Regions from separate parts of the Homo sapiens genome. Here region 2 is linked to region 1. A link means that fine-mapping ties the variant in region 1 to the expression of a gene that starts in the linked region. Tissue or cell type: whole blood. Region 1 holds a variant in brackets; the other region holds the start of a gene. All regions are shown on one strand. Distances are from middle to middle.

Region 1 (8,105 bases):
TCACTCTGAGCATTGTCTTTTTTGAAATTTACCCAGCCACGTGCTGTCCATTCCCTTACGCAGTGGAAACTCTCCTTGCATTTACTCCCAAGTAATCACCTCGGCCTTGTCACATCCCTTTAGATTCCAGATTGAAAATTGAACAGAGCATTTCAAAATTAAAAAGTTTTGAAAATCCAGGTGGGGAAAATGGATCTGACTAAACAGGAGAGAAATTTCTTCCTCTTCCCCTATTCTACGTGCTTCTGTGGATATAGAAAGGGGCACCCCCAGCCCCAGCAAGGGAGCCAGGCATCCATCTACTTAAGTAAAGTTGGCTGTGGTAAGGGGTTAGACTAAAATTCTCCGCAGATGCAGAGGAGAAGGAATGAATTCCAGCTGAGAGACCTGGCCGATGCATGGGATTTGTCTTCAAGGTCCAGGCAGAGGGGATGGCAGATGCCAAATTGCAGAAGTCGAAGAGGGCCCAGTATGGTTGGTCTGTAAAGTAGGTATATAATAGTATCTACTTAATCTGTGAGATTGAAAGAGATTAACATGTATAGAGTGCCTAGCACGGTAGTAACTGCTCAATAAACGTTAGCCATTATTATTGCCGTTGTAGTGTTTGTTGTTGTTATGATCATCATCATCTGCCCAGGAACGTGCCCAGGGCTGCACAGCTAGTAAGTGGCAGGGGATGATTCAAATGCAAACCCAGGTAATGCCGAATACCATGCATGGTCTGCCCCTACCCCACACAGCCTCTCCAGTTCTTTTCTTTTTTTTTTTTTTTTTTTTTTTTTTTTTTTTTTTTGAGACAGGGTCTTACTCTGTTGCCCAAGCTGGAGTGCAGTGGCGTGATCTCGGCTTGCTGCAGCCTGACCTCCCAGGCTCAAGCGATCCTCCTACCTCAGCCTGTGCAGCTGGGACTGCAAGCACGTGTTACCATGCCCAGCTAATTTTTTTTTTTCTCTATAGAAACGAGGTCTCATTATGTTGTCCAGGTGGTCTCAAACTCCTGAACTCAAGCGATCCTCCCACCTGGGCCTTCCAAGTGCTGGGATTACAGGCATGAGCCACTGAGCCTGGCCTGTCTCCAGTTCTTTCTGCCCATCCTTGACATTTCTGAGGCCCAGGAGTGGCCTCTCTTTGTCAACATTCACAGTGAGTCATGACAGGAGTTTCTTTCCTGCCGAGTTACAGAGATTCTGGGTTCATGATGAGGCAGGAAAAACAAGGCCTGAACAGCCATCTTCTTCCAGGCAGAATCACAGCACAGAAGATAGGCAGACCTGGCCGGGCGCGGTGGCTCACGCCTGTAATCCCAGCACTTTGGGAGGCTGAGGTGGGTGGATCATTTGAGGTCAGGAGCTTGAGACCAGCCTGGCCAACGTGGTGAAACCCCGTCTCTACTAAAAATACAAAAATTAGCCGGGCATGGTGGCACGCACCTGAAATCCCAGCTACTCAGGAGGCTGAGGCAGGAGAATCACTTGAACCTGGGAGGCAGAGGTCGCAGTGAGCCAGGATCACGCCACTGCACTCCAAACTGGGTGACAGAGCGAGACTCTATCTCAAAAAAAAAAAATAGGCCTAGTGGTGTGGTTTCTGTGGGTGGTGGCTCTATCCAGACTGCCCACCCAGGCTTAGATTCTAACTCCTCCACCACTTAGCCCTGGTTGGCATCCTCACCCTTCAAAATTCAGAAACACTTGGGAAGGAAAATTATGAGCTTTTCACACTTCTAAGTAGTAGTAGTAAATCTGTAACTTACTAAATCTGGCGACTTATTGGGGTCTGGCACAATGACTGTAACTTTACATCTATTGGCCCTATGAAGAAGTGTTCTTCCCCCCTCTTTTAAAATACAAATATTTTTAAAATTTTCAAGCTTACATAAAAGCTTAAAGTACAACCCTTAACCTAGATACGCCAAATCACAATTTGCCAATTGTGCTTTTACACAAACACACACTTTTTTGGCCCAATTATTTAAAAGTAAGTTACAGATATGTTGATTGACGTTTGACCCCTAAATTCTTCAACATGTATCCCCTAATAAGGGCGTTCTACTACATAGCCATAATACATTATATGTAATAAGCAAGAAGTCAGTATTACCCAATGTAATAGTTATTCAAAATTTTCTGCCAGGTGCAATGGGTCATGTCTATAACCCCAGCACTTTGGGAAGCAAAGGCAGACAGATTGCTTGAGCCCAGGAGTTCAAGGCCAGCCTGGGCAACATAGTGAAACCCCATCTCTACAAAAACTACAAAATTTAGCATGGTGTGGTAGCGTGCACCTGTAGTCCCAGCTACTTGGGAAAATCACCTGAGCCTGGGGATGTCAAGGCTGCAGTGAACCATGATCGCGCCACTGCACTCCAGCCTGGGCGACAGAGTGAGACCCTGTCTCAAGAAAAAAAAAATTCTAATTGCCCAAAAATACCTTATATAGTTTCTGGTTTTTAAAATCAGATCCAGTCAAGATGTACATATTGCATCCTATTATATCTCTTTTATCAACTCATTTAATCTAAATAGAGCCCCTTGGCATGGTAGCTCATGTCTGTAATCCCAACATTTTGGGAGGCTGAGGTGGGCAGATCACTTGAGGTCAGGAGTTCGAGACCAGCCTGGCCAACATGGTGATACCCCATCTCAAGTAAAAATACAAAAATTAGCCGGACATGGTGGTGTGTGCCTATACTCCCAGCTACTCAGGAGGCTGAGGCAAGAGAATTGCTTGAACTCAGGAGGTGGAGGTTGCAGTGAGCCGAGATTGTGCCACTGCACTCCAGCCTGGGCAACAGAGTGTGACTCTATCTCAAATAAATAAATAAATAAATAAATAGAGCTTCTCCACCTATTTAAATATGTTTGATTGGTTTATCAATGATTAGATTGGGGTTAGATTTAAGTTTTTGGCAATGTGTGTACTTACTGCATGTCAGGAGGATATGATGTCAGGGTCTTACTATCCATGAATGCTAAATTTGATTATTAAGGTCATGGCAACCTGATCTCTCTATCGTAAAGGTAAATTTTTCTCTCTTACAATTAATAAGTAATCTGTGAAGTGATTCTCTGAGTCTGTTATAATTATGTGTTCCTGATAACCTTTCACACCACATCCTTGGATGATCCTTGCTTGAATTACAACACTGAGGGTTGCAAATTGGTAATTTTCTAATTCTGCCATTCCTTCTGTGTTTATTAGTGTTCTTTTTTATAGAATTAATTTTTCCTGGCCGGGTGCGGTGGCTCACGCCTGTAATCCCAGCACTTTGGGAGGCCGAGGCGGGCGGATCACGAGGTCAGGAGATCGAGACCATCCTGGCTAACAAGGTGAAACCCTGTCTCCACTAAAAATACAAAAAATTAGCCGAGCGAGGTGGCGGGCGCCTGTAGTCTCAGCTACTCGGGAGGCTGAGGCAGGAGAATGGCGTGAACCCTGGGAGGCGGAGGTTGCAGTGAGCCGAAATCACACCACTGCACTCCAGCCTGGGCGACAGTGAGACTCCGTCTCAAAAAAAAAAAAAAAGAATTAATTTTTCCTGTCTCTATCTTTCTCACTCCCTTCTTCTCACCCTCTTTTTTCTTTTGGGAATAACATTATGGACTCTTGTTTTTTGTTTGTTTGTTTTTGAGATGGAGTCTCACTCTGTTGCCCTGGCTGGTGTGCAGTGGCACGATCTTGGCTCACTGCAACCTCCACTTCCCAGATTCAAGCGATTCTCCTGC[C/G]TCAGCCTCCCAAGTAGCTGGAATAACAGGCGCACGCCACCCCGCCCAGCTATTTTTTGTATTTTTAGTAGAGATGGGGTTTTGCCATGTTAGCCAGGCTGGTCTTGAACTCCAGACCTCAGGTGATCCGCCCGCCTCGGCCTCCCAAAGTGCTGAGATTACAGGCATGAACTACCGCACCCAGCCTGGACTCTTGTTTTGTTGTTGTTGTTTTTTAATTCACTGGGCTATATGAACTCACCTTGAACTTTTCCTGTGAAAGTCCAGGAATCATCAGTTTCTCCAGGAAGCCCTGGTTTCTTTTAGAAGAGATGATGACATTCAGAAACAAAGATCCAGGGCTAGGTGTGTTTATTGCTACTGGGTGTCATTTCTAGGCTCTGTGAGTGAGCAGAGCTAGGAAATGATGGATAGGTGATTGATAGATAGATGATAGATGGACAATTTTCATTACTCAGTACATTTATTGTTACAACAGCTAGTCCCCACTGACAGGATTGCATGGTAAGTCATTTCATTATGGAAGTAATGCTCATTATGGAAGTGGACAGTAATGTAGGAAAAAAGGAAATTGCACAGAAAAGAGCTCTTGCCTACTCCAGGTCGCCATGAGTATACAGACTGTTGGCTAGGACCTCTGTGGCTGGGTTCAGCTTCCTGCCGAAGACGTCTAAAGGACTGGTTCTCTGAAGGGTGTCCAAACCAGAACTTCCCAGAGGCCATGACTCTGAGGTCAAGAATCCACATGAAGCCCTGGGCAAGGGATTCACGCTCTTTGGGTCTGCTTTAGGTTGTCTTTGAAACAAAGACAATGTAATCGGTCCTGCCTGGGTCCCAGAGTTGTAAGGATCAATATATTTATCAATATGTTTATTTTTAAACATTGCTAGTTGTGTCTCTTCACATTTATTACCAAATTCCTTCTCTTCTCATTGTTTTAAAACCACAGAGGGAAATGTCATTGCTTTATAATCTAGTTTAATACATTGCGCTAAGATGTCTTATTCAAATACTCTTTCAGGTTATCAGTCATCAGTGCTTCCAGATTAAAATTTTAATTATTTAAATCTTTTTTGAAAAATACTATTGGGATTTGGATTAGGATAGCATAACAACTATAATTAATTTTGAGGGGGGGGGGGTGCTTTGGGATAAGGCCTGGCTCTGTCACCCAAACCAGAGTGCAGTGGCACAGTCTTGGCTCACTGCAACCTCCACCTACTGGGACAAAACCAATTATTAAAATAGAAGAAGTTCCTATAGCTATTATCACTTGGGAAATTACACAGTTTTTAGCCCTGGCCAACAGCTGGGGACAAATCTAAAATGTATATTGCTTATTATATCACAGTATCACACAACCCCTCCCCTGAGTGCAAGGCGGTGACTATGCAGACGTGAGACATGCAGTTGCTCTCAGCTCACAAACTAGGCAGTGGTTTCCAAAAAAAATTGTTTTGTCAGCCACAGTATGAAGATACCATGATCCAGTTCATAGACACACAACTGAAACAAAAGTTTCACAACAATATATAATTGGTTACAACCCACTTAACTGTATTGATGTCATGACTTGCCAATAGGTCACAACCTTCATTTTTTTTCCTGTTTATGGAGGTAAAACTTAAGTATGGTAAAATTTACACTTTTTTTTTAATTGAGACAGGGGTCTTACTATGTTTTCCAGGCTGGTCTTGAACTCCTGGGCTCAAGTGACCCTCCTGCCTCGGCCTCTCAAAGTACTGGGATTATAGGCATGAACCACCACAGCTGGCCACAATTCACCCTTTTAGATGTGTATGGTTACATGAATTTTGACAGTCTTTATAAACACATTTGACCACCACCACATCATATTACTTTTGTGCCAACCTAATAGAATATTCCCATCACTCCAAAATATGCCTTGTGTTTCTTTGTAACCAGTCTTTTCCCTCCAACCCAGCCCCAAGAATTCACTTAATCTGATTTCTGTCTTTATAGTTTTGCCTTTGCCAGAACGTTATACAGATAGAGTCATGTACCATGTAACCTTCTGAGGCTGGCTTCTTTCACTTGACGTAATGCTTTTGAAATTCATGTATGTGGTAATGTCTTTTAGTAGTTCCTATATATTGCTGAGTCATATTCTATTGTATGGATGTACTGCAATTTATCTGTTTACAATTAGTTGTTTCTGAGTTTGGGCAATTATGAATAAGCTGCCATAAACATTCACATATGAGTCTTTGCATGGACATATGTCTCCATTTCTCCGGCATAAATACCTAGGAGTAGGGTCATTGGGTCACGTGATAATTGTATGCTGTATTAGTCCATTCTCACACTGCTAATAACAACATACCCCAGACTGGCTAATTTACAAAGGAAAGAGGTTTAATTGACTCACGGTTCCACAGGACTAGGGAGGCCTCAGGAAACTTAAAATAATGGTGGAAGGGGAAGCAAACATGTCTTTCTTCACATGGCAGCAGCAAGGAGAAGTGCCAAGCGAAGGGGGAAACCCCTTATAAAACCATCAGATCTCTTAAGAACTCACTATCACAAGAACAGCATGAGGAAAACCGCCCCAATGATTCAATCATCTCCACCTAGTCCTGCCCTTGACACATGGGGATTATTACAATTCAAGGTGAGATTTGGGTGGGGACACAGAGCCAAACCATACCATATGTCAAACTATTTTCAACAGCGGTTACCATTTGTCAGCAGTGTATGAGGTTTCCATTGTTCTATGTACTCACCTTCAATTGGCATTGTCAGTTTTTATATGAGCCACTAATAGGTATATAGTAGCATATAATTGTGGTTTCAATTTTCATACTCTCATGACTGATGATATTGACCATCTTTTCATGTGATTGTCAGTCATCTGCATATCTTCTTTGCTGGAGTATTTGTTAGATCTTTTGTCTAGTTGTTTTGTTTTTGTTTTTGTTTAAGTAGAGATAGGGTTTCACCATGTCGGCCAGGCTGTTCTTGAACTCCTGGCCTCAAGTGATCTGCCCGCCTCAGCCTCCCAAAGTGCTGGGATTACAGGCATGTGCCACTGCACCCAGCTTTATGTGTTTTTTAATTGGGTTATTTTCTTACTGAGTTTTGAGAGTTCTTTATATATTCTGGTTAACAATCCTTTATCAGATAGGTGTTTTGCAAATATTTTCTCCATCTGTGTCTTATTCTTTCATTTTCTTAACAGTGTCTTTTGAAGAGCAGAAGTTTTTTACGTGGATGAAGTCTAGTTTATTGATGTTTTTAATGGTTTGTCCCTTTTAGGTCCTATCCAAGAAATCTTTGCCTAATCCACAGTTGCAAAGATTTTCTCCTAGAAGTTGTGTAGTTTTAGATTTTATATTTAGGTCTATGATATGTTCTGAGTTTATTTTTCATAAACAGCATAAGAGATGGACCAAGGTTCTTTTTTTCCCCATATGGATGTCCACTGATCTGCATTTTGAGATAGCCAGGGAAGAGGGCCATGTGCAAAGGAGATCGCTGCAGGTGGAATGCTGGGTGCTGCCAGAGGGGGTTGTGCAAGGCACCAGGAAGCCCTGAGAGGAGAGCTGTTAACCTAGTGGAGATCTGGGGACAGTAGTACAGAGGTGATGACTCATAGGCTGGGCCTGAAAGGTAGACAGCAGAGAGGGTAGAGAAGGTAGACAGGGGTGGTCTAGGGACAGCAAAGGCAGGGCAGGTGTCAGCATGAAGGAGACTGACTCAGTGGCGTCTGGCGTGCGTGGAGGGCAGGGTTAGACATGAGAGGGAAAGAGGAAGGTGGTTGGGCAGGGACGGTACTTCAGGAAGGTCAGTCTGCAGACCAGAAAGGAAGGTGGACAGAAGGCAGGGAGCCGAGTGAGGATGTAGGGGTGCAGGGGGCAGGGATGAGGCCTGAGCTCTGGGAGTAGCTATAGGGATGGGTTCAAGGAGATAGTCAAGACAAACTGTAGGGCTGAAGAGTCGGGGCTGCTTCCCTCAGGCAGTTGGGTGGCTCAGAAGAGTTCACAGCAGAGTTAGGGGCAGAGGAAGGCACAGGTGAGGCTTCTGGTACCTGTGTTACTGGTGGAGGGTCTTGACTAGGAATTTTCCAGGTCCTTGGCGTTTTGAACAAAGTAGCAGAGGGGCAGACGTGGTAATCCCCACACTTTGGGAGGCCTGGATGGGCAGATCACTTGAGGTCAGTCCAAGACCGGCCTGGCCAACGTGGTGAAACCCGTCTCTACTAAAAAAAAAAAAAGTAAAAATAAAAAGAGTAGCAGGGGAATGAAATGCAGGAATGAAGCAGTGAAAGCAGGAATTAAAGTGAGAAAGCACTCCTCAGGGTGGGAGTGGGCCGGAGCAAGGAACTCAAAGGCCCAGTTACAAAGTTCTCTGGGCTTT
Region 2 (8,105 bases), 100 kb after region 1:
GGAGCAGGAGGGTGTCTTGTTGAGAAGATTTAAAGGAGGGGCTACAAAGTAGAAGGTCATCAATATATTGAATAAGGTGAGAAGCAGAGGGGTGGAAAGAAAGTAAATCATGAGAAAGAGCTTGGCTGAAGGAATGAGGGCTGTCCCTGAAGCCTCGTGGCAGTACAGCCCAGGTAAGTTGCTGGGACTGATGGGTGTCAGGGTCAATCCAGGTAAAAGCAAAGAGGGCTGGGACGAGGGGTGCAGGGGAATAGTGAAAAAAGCATCTTTAAGATCAAGAACGGAATAGTTGTGGAGGAAGGTATTGAGGACAAAAGAGTGTACGGGTTGGGCACCACAGAGTGGATAGGCAAAACAATTTGGTTGATAAGGCACAGATCCTGAATTAACTTGTAATACTTGTCCGGTTTTTGGACAGGTAAAATGGGGGAATTGTAAGGAGAGTTTGGAGGCTTTAGAAGCCCATACTGTAGCAGACGAGAGATAATAGGCTTTAGTCCCTTTAAAGTCTGTTGTGGGATGGGACACTGGCACTGAGGGGGGTAAGAGTGATTAGGTTTTAATAGGATAGTAATGGGTGTGTGATCGGTTGCTAGGGAGGGAGTAGAGGTATCCCATACTTGTGGGTTAAGGTGGGGGGATACAAGAGGAAGAAGTGAAGGAGGCTTTGGGTTGGGAAGAAGGGTGGCAATGAGATGTGGCTGTCGTCCAGGAATAGTCAGGGTGGTGGATAATTTTGTTAAAACATCTCAACCTAATAAGGGAACTGAGCAGGTGGGAATAACTAAAAAGGAGTGCATAAAAGAATGTTGTACAAGTTGTCACCAAAGTTGGGGAGTTTTAAGAGGTTTAGAAGCCTGGCTGTCAATACCCACAATGGTTATGTGGGCAAGGGAAACAGGTCCTTGAAAATAAGGTAATGTGGAGTGGGTAGCCCCTGTATCGATTAAAAAGGGGACAGACTTACCCTCCACTGTGAAAGTTACCCGAAGCTTGGCATCCATGATGGTCCAGGGGGCTTCCAAGGTGATTGGGCAGCGTCAGTCTTCAGCCACTAAGCTGAGCAGGTCTGGTAAGGAGTCAGTCAGAGACCCTTGGGCCAGAGCTTTAGGGGCTGGGCTCTGGAAGTGGCTGCCGGGTGAGCTGGGCGGTCTGATTTCCAGTGGGTCACTGCACAGATGGAACATGGCTTGGGAGGAATCCTGGGCTGCAGGCATTCCTTGGCCCACTGGCCAGATTTCTGGCACTTGAAGCAAGATCCTGAGGGAGGAGGTCCTGTAGGAAAGCCTGACCACTGCAGCTTAGGCATTTTGAAGTTCTTGTGTGCCGGAGGTGCAGCTGGGTTTTGTCTCACAGCAGAGGCAAGTAATTGTAACTCAGAAATGTGTTTCTGCTTGGCTGCCTCTTCTCTATTATTGTACACATTGAAGGCGAGGTTGATTAATTCCTGTTGTGGGGTTTGAGGGCCAGATTCAAATTTTTGAAGCTTTTTTCTGATGTCAGGAGCTGACTGGGTGATGAAATGCATATCAAGAATAAGACAGCCTTCTGGCCCTTCAGGGTCTAGGGCTATAAAGCATCTAAGGGTAGCCACCAAACAGGCCATGAACTGGGCTGGGTCTTCATCTTTACCTTGGGTAGTTTCTTTAAGTTTGTCATAATTAACAGATTTGTATGCTGCCTTTTTAAGCCCTTCAACTAGGCAGGAAATCATGTAATCTCACCTAGCTATACCTGAGGAACCTGCCTGATAGTGCCACTGGGGATCTTCTCAGGGAACCGTCTGTAATACCTTCCTGGAGGCCTGGCTCATAATGCCAGTGGGTGTCTGTGTGGGACTAGGCTAGAGGAAACACTCTTTCCCATTCATCTGGGGAGAGGGTAGAAATTAGGATGACATTTAAGCCACTCCAGGTTAAATTGTAAGACTGGGTTAAATACTGGAATTCATGTATATATTTGGTGGGGTCTGACGAGAAGGAGCCTAAGTGTTGATTAATTTGGGAAAGGTCTGATAGAGAAAATGGTACATGCACTCTGACGATGCCCTCAGTTCCAGCCACTTCTTGAAGAGGAAATTATTGGGCAGGTGGGGGAGTATTTGCCGCAGAACGAAATTGTAAGCTGGACCAGGTGTGGGGAGGGGAGATGATAGAAGGGTTGTAGGGTGGGGAAGTGGAGGCTGAGGAAGAGTTGGAAGCTGATTCAGCCTGGTGGGGAGCGACCTGAGGAGGAGCAGTCTAGGGAGGAGGGTAGAAGTCAGATGGGTCGGTAGAAAAGAAATATTCAAAAGACTCACCGGCACTTCAGGTTGGGACTGAAGGGACAGGCGGGAGGGAAAGAAGGAAGATTTGCGGCAAGTCGCACTGGGAACAGAGATTAGGGAAGGAACGAAGTGTAAAAAATGCCTGGATGTAGGGCACCTCAGACCATTTGCCCATTTTATGACAAAAATTATCTAGATCTTGTAGGCTGGAGAAATCGAAAGTGCTCTTTTCTGGCCATTTAGAGCCATTATCAAGTTTGTATTGGGGCCAAGTGGTGTTGCAGAAGAAAATAAGACACTTAGGTTTTAGGTCAGGTGAGAGTTGAAGAGGTTTTAAGTTTTTAAGAACACAGGCTAAGAGAGGAAGAAGAAGGAATGGAGGGCTGAAGGTTGCCCATAGTAAAAAGGTAAGTTTAGAGAAAGGAGGAGGTTGAGACATGGAGAGAGGGGGGGTGGTACTTGCCACCCAGGGGAAGTGGTACTTGCCACCAAGGTGGAAGATCAAAACAGGTGTCCCCGCAGTGATCGAACACCTCTGAAATGTGGGTGAATAATCAGGCAGGCGTCCCTGCAGTGACTAAACACAAGGGAAGACAGTCTTCCCGAGTCCATGACCAGCGCCAGAGTTTTGGGTCCACAGATAAAACGGGTCTCCTCTGTCTCTACCAGACAGGGAAAGGAACCGAAATTAAGGGAAGGGAGAGACTGAAGGGTGGTGCCGAAATTGAAAGGAGAAAGAGGTTGAGGGATAGTGAAAGAGGTTGAAGAAGAGAGTAGAAAGAGGCCACTTACCCGATTTAAAATTGGTGAGATGTTCCTTGGGCTGGTCTGAGGACCCGAGGTCGTAGGTAGATCTTCCTCACGGAGCAAAGAGCGGGAGGACAGGGGATTGATCTCCCAAGGAAGGTCCCCCGATCCAAGTCATAGCACCAAATGTCAAATGCATCCGTGTGAAGAGACCACCAACAGGCTTTGTGTGAGCAACAAGGCTGTTTATTCACTTGGGTGCAAGTGGGCTGAGTCCGAAAAGAGAATCAATGAAGGGAGATGGGGAAGGGGTTGCTTTATAGGATTTAGGTAGGTAATGGAAAATTACAGTAAAAGGTGGTTGTTATCTATTGTTAGCAGGGGAGGGGGTCACAAGGTACATGATGGGGAGATCATAAGACTTATTGTCCAGAAGAAGAATGTCACAAGGATGGTTGATCAGTTAAGGTAGGGCAGGGACCAGTCACAATGGTGGAATGTTTGTTAATCAGTTAAGGCAGGAAGTGGCTGTTTTACTTCTTTTGTGGGTTTTTGGCTGCCCCAGACTTCTTGGCTCCCGCAGGCCATCTGGACGCATATGTGCAAGTCACAGGGGTTACAATGGTTGAGCTTCGGCTGAGAGGCCTGACAGCAGAGACTGGAAAATTGCTTAACAGAATTATAAATTCCTTCTTTCATTACTCAAACCTTTTTTTTTTTCTTTTTGAGACGAAGTTTCGCTCTTGTTGACCAGGCTGGAATGCAATGGTGCGATCTCGGCTCACTGCAACCTCCACCTCCCAGGTTCAAGCGATTCTCCCCCCTCAGCTTCCCGAGCAGCCGATTATGCTGCCTCAGCCTTCCCAGTAGCTGGGACTACAGGCACCCGCCACCACGCCCAGCTAATTTTTTGTATTTTTCGTAGAGATGGGATTTCACCATGTTGGCCAAGCTGGTCTTGAACTCCTGAAGTGATCCGCTCACTTCAGCCTCCCAAAGTGATGGGATTACAGGCGTGAGTGACGGCGCCTGGCCTCATTACTCAAACCTTTAGGGAACACCTCCTCACTCAGCCATGTGTAACGACGTGAAGACCCAGAGGTGAAACATTTTAGGGTGCTGCCTCCGAATCTGAATTTCAACAATAGACTAAAACGATCCAGTCCTGGGCTTCTCTAAATTCTTTTGTTGCTGGCCAGACCTTAATTTTAGGCTTTGGAGGGAGTGTCTATGCGAATGAACGACTGAAAACTCAGAAAACGAAAACTAGCTTTTATGGAATTTCAATTAATTACGTTTATCAAAACTACGCATCATGCCCATTTGTGGGTATTGGATGAAAAGATAAATCTTTCCAGAAGGGGCAGGGGAGGGAGAGGCAATTCTGGTTGGGGAAGTTGGGAGAAAAGAAAATCAGTATCTCCTAGTCTTCGCCCAGTTTGGCTCGTTTGGGGTACTCCTCGACCCCGCGTTACCAGGCCCGTGAATCCCACTCCCACCAGAGAATTAGCGCGGGCGGACGAGCAAAGTGAAACTTAGTAGCCCGGAACTTCGCGTGCCGGGTTCCCGCAGCAACACGTACCGGGAAGCGTTTGGGCGCTGCACCGCGCTGCGCCGTGCCCGTGAGTCCGGCGCGCAGAGGAGGAGGAGAAAGCTGACCGCTTAGGCCGGGGTAGTGGTCGTCGTGGTTTTCCTTGTAGTTCGTGGTCTGAGACCAGGCCTCAAGTGGAAACGGCGTCACCATGATCGCACGGCGGAACCCAGAACCCTTACGGTTTCTGCCGGATGAGGCCCGGAGCCTGCCCCCGCCCAAGCTGACCGACCCGCGGCTCCTCTACATCGGCTTCTTGGGCTACTGCTCCGGCCTGATTGATAACCTAATCCGGCGGAGGCCGATCGCGACGGCTGGTGAGTGCTGCGCGGCCGGGATCGGCTGGGAGGAGAAGGGGTCGTAGGGCTGCAGACTGGCCCGGCCGTAGGCCCCCCTGAGGTGCTCTGCTTTTCCGTGCCTTTTTGCCTAGCTGGCCCCATCTCGCCTTTCCGGGGAGTCCGCGCCCCATTAGCTCTTTAGAATCAAGCAGAGCCAGAGTGTCATTTGGCACTTGAAGAAACTGAGGTGCAGTGAAGCAGGAACTGAGTCTGTGAAGGACCCGAAACTACTCTCCTCAGTTCGTGTTGTGCTGTGTGCGCAAATGAGCCATGACTCCATGCCATGCACTACTCACACTGTGGGCATTATTGATAGCATTTCGGCCTTAAAACACTTTTAGGGATGTATTATTCACAACGAGGAAACCGAGCCTAACAGATTAACAGCAGCTTGCCCAAGGTCATATGGCTATTAAGTAGCAGAGCTTGGTTTTTTTTTTTTTTGACCTCTGAATGGATATTGGACACCAGTGCTTCTCAAACTTAATGTGCATACGAATAGCATAGGTGTCTTGTTAAAATTCGGATTCTGGGCTGCGCGAGGTGGCTCACACCTGTAATCCCAGCGCCTTGGGAGGCCGTGGCGGGCGGATCGCCTGAGCTCAGGAATTCGATACCAGTATGGGCAATAGGGCGAAAACCCGTCCCTACAAAAAAATACAAAAGTTAGCCGGGCGTGGTGGTGCACGCCTGTGGTCCCAGGCTGAGGGAGGCTGAGGCAGGAGGGTCGTTTGAGCCTGGAAGGCAGAGGTTGCAGTAAGCCGAGATTGCACCATTGCACTCCAACCTGTGCAACAAAGTGAGACCCTGTCTCAAAAAAAAAAAAAAAGCGGATCCTGATTCATGAGGTCTGGGGAGGAACTTGATGTTAACAACAAGCGCTCAAACACTGCTGCTGCTGGTCTGAGGACCACGGTTTGAATAGGAGGCTCTAAACCAGTGTGCTGTACTTCCCAGTAGTATGTCACTGGCTTCCTATCAGAGACACTGACTATTCTGATAATAACCACCACAGTAGCTTTGCTAAGCTCTATGGATTTCCAGAGGGAAAAGAGGAGAGGAACTTTGGAAGAGGGGTCTTTGAAGTTAACTTTGATTATCAGGCAGGACTGAGAGACAGACAGCTTTCTAGGCCCGTGGGGCTAGTGGGAGCTAATGGGGGCAAGGACCTCTGAATGGAGGGTGTTTGATGATTGAGTGAGTGTTCAGGTTTAGATAAAACTGCAAGGGAGATTTTAGCAGAGCATGGCAATTTATTTTCTAGGCAGTCAGGAACTTTGTAAGCTTTTGAGAGCTGCAAGGGTGCAGTGATGAGCTCTGTATTTTAAAAAGTCATCTTTGTCAGCAATGTGAGGCGTTGATTGGAGCCAAGAAGCACAATCAGGAAAAAAGCTCAGGCAATGGTTCAGGCAATTAGGAGTCACCACACTTGTACCTCTTTTGCCTTCTTACAGCTGTATGTCATGCCTGAAGGTCAGCTCCCAACCCATCAAATCCCACATTTCCAGTGCTCAAATAGTATTGAAGTCCTATCTCCCTTGGACATAACTCCTCACTTCAGAAAGGAGTCATCTTTGTCCGTTTATGCCTCTGAGGACTCGAGGTTTTCCCTTTTCATCACCACTTCATATTTGCCCAAGACTGTCACTTGGTGTAATGAAAAGAGCTCCACTTTGGAACTAAACAAACTTGCTCACTAGGCACAGGCACTGTGGTTCACACCTGTAATCCCAGCACTTTGGGAGACCAAGGCAGGAACATCTCTTGAGGCCAGGAGTTCAAGACCAGCCTGGGCAACATAGTGAGACCCTGTCTCTACAAAAAAATTTAAAAAATTAGCCAGGCATGGTGATGTGCACTTGTAGTCCCAGGTACTCAGGAAGCTAAGGGAGGAGAATCACTTGAGCCCAGGAGGTTGAGGCTGCAGCGAGCCACGATTGCACCACTGCACTCCAGCCTGGGCAACAAAGTTGAGACCTTGTCTCCAATAAATAAATAAATAAACAGACTTGCTCTGCTGCTTTCCAGCTGTGTCACTTTGGGCAAGTTACATGGTCAGGTCGATCAGAGCCAAAGTTTCCTCATCTATAAAATAAGAATAATTAATTTTTGCATATTTGTTGTGAGAATTGAGTGAGATTCTGTAGGTAAAATGTCTGACATGCAAAAGGTGCTGGACAGAGTTCCCCTTCCTTAGCTCTTGTTATGCAAACAGTTTACCATATATTTGTAAATTGTTCATTTACAGAACCCTTTTTTTTTTTTTGAGACAGGGTCTCACTCTGTCACCCAGGCTAGAGGGCAGTGGTGCACTCATGGCTCACTGCAGCCTCGACCTCCTGGGCTCAGGCGATCCTCCTATCCTAGCCTTCCAAGTAGCTGGGACTACAGGTACATACCACCAGGCCTGGCCAATTTTAAAATTTTTTGTAGAGATGGGGTCTTGCCATCTTGGCCAGGCTGGTCTCAAACTTCTGGCCTCAAGTGATCCTGCCACCTCGGCCTCCCAGAGTGCTGGGGTTATAGGTGTGAGCCACTGTGCCTGGCCTTACTTAACTGTTTCTCTGTTATGTGCCCTATGGAGCTCCTAGTGAAATCAGGGAGACAAACAGGTAAACAGCCTGTTGCTGATCTTGGTATGATAGATACATGTTTTGATAGAGGTGGGTGAGCAGAAAGCACTTTAGGAGCACAAAGGAGATACAGTTGGGAGGGAGAATGCTCTAGAGGAAGTAAAGGTTGGCTGAAATGTGACGTATGTACCACTTAATCTCGTTGTTAGTTTAGCCGTTTGTGCCTTTCTGGGAGACAGAAGAGTATAGCAGTTAAGAGCATATGCTTTGGGGTTTGACATCACCTCCACCCTACTAGTAATTTGATTCTGAGGAAGTTACCTATCTCTGAGGACTGGATGAGATAATGAATATAAACTGCTTAGCCCAGGAGTAGGGATCAGACTTCCTGAGTTCCCAGAGCTTCCCTAAATTGCTTTGGAAGATTTAGGTCCTAGGACTTTGTTGAAATGGTTGTCCTCAACAGCATTTACTGAATGCATATTGTGTTTATCTAGCTCAGTGTCTAATATCTATAGTAGGTGTTCAGTAAGTATTGAGTGAGGTCACGTGTGGTGGCTCATGCCTGTAATCCCAACATTTTGGGAGGC

The links. PIP is the estimated chance that this variant, and not a neighbour inherited with it, causes the effect.
Region 2: NDUFC2 starts here. The variant in region 1 is fine-mapped to the expression of NDUFC2 in whole blood (TOPMed, PIP above 0.99).

The regions. Positions count from the first base shown.
Region 1 is chr11:78,179,063-78,187,167 of GRCh38, reverse strand. All of the region lies in intron 1 of KCTD21 (potassium channel tetramerization domain containing 21), which reads left to right. Among named protein-coding and RNA genes, the nearest start is that of KCTD21, 5.5 kb to the left of the region's middle. RefSeq lists an enhancer at 7,222-7,721. The variant C/G (reference allele first, on the strand shown) is at 3,729.
Region 2 is chr11:78,076,395-78,084,499 of GRCh38, reverse strand. NDUFC2 (NADH:ubiquinone oxidoreductase subunit C2) reads left to right here and starts at 4,638. Exons shown (of 3, transcript NM_004549.6): 1 at 4,638-4,921. The coding sequence starts at 4,756. It overlaps NDUFC2-KCTD14 (NDUFC2-KCTD14 readthrough), which reads left to right and starts at 4,638. Exons shown (of 3, transcript NM_001203262.2): 1 at 4,638-4,921. The coding sequence starts at 4,756. LOC105369401 (a long non-coding RNA gene) reads right to left here and starts at 3,305. Exons shown (of 3, transcript XR_950342.2): 1 at 3,059-3,305; 2 at 968-1,170. RefSeq lists a silencer at 4,466-4,655 and an enhancer at 4,859-4,918.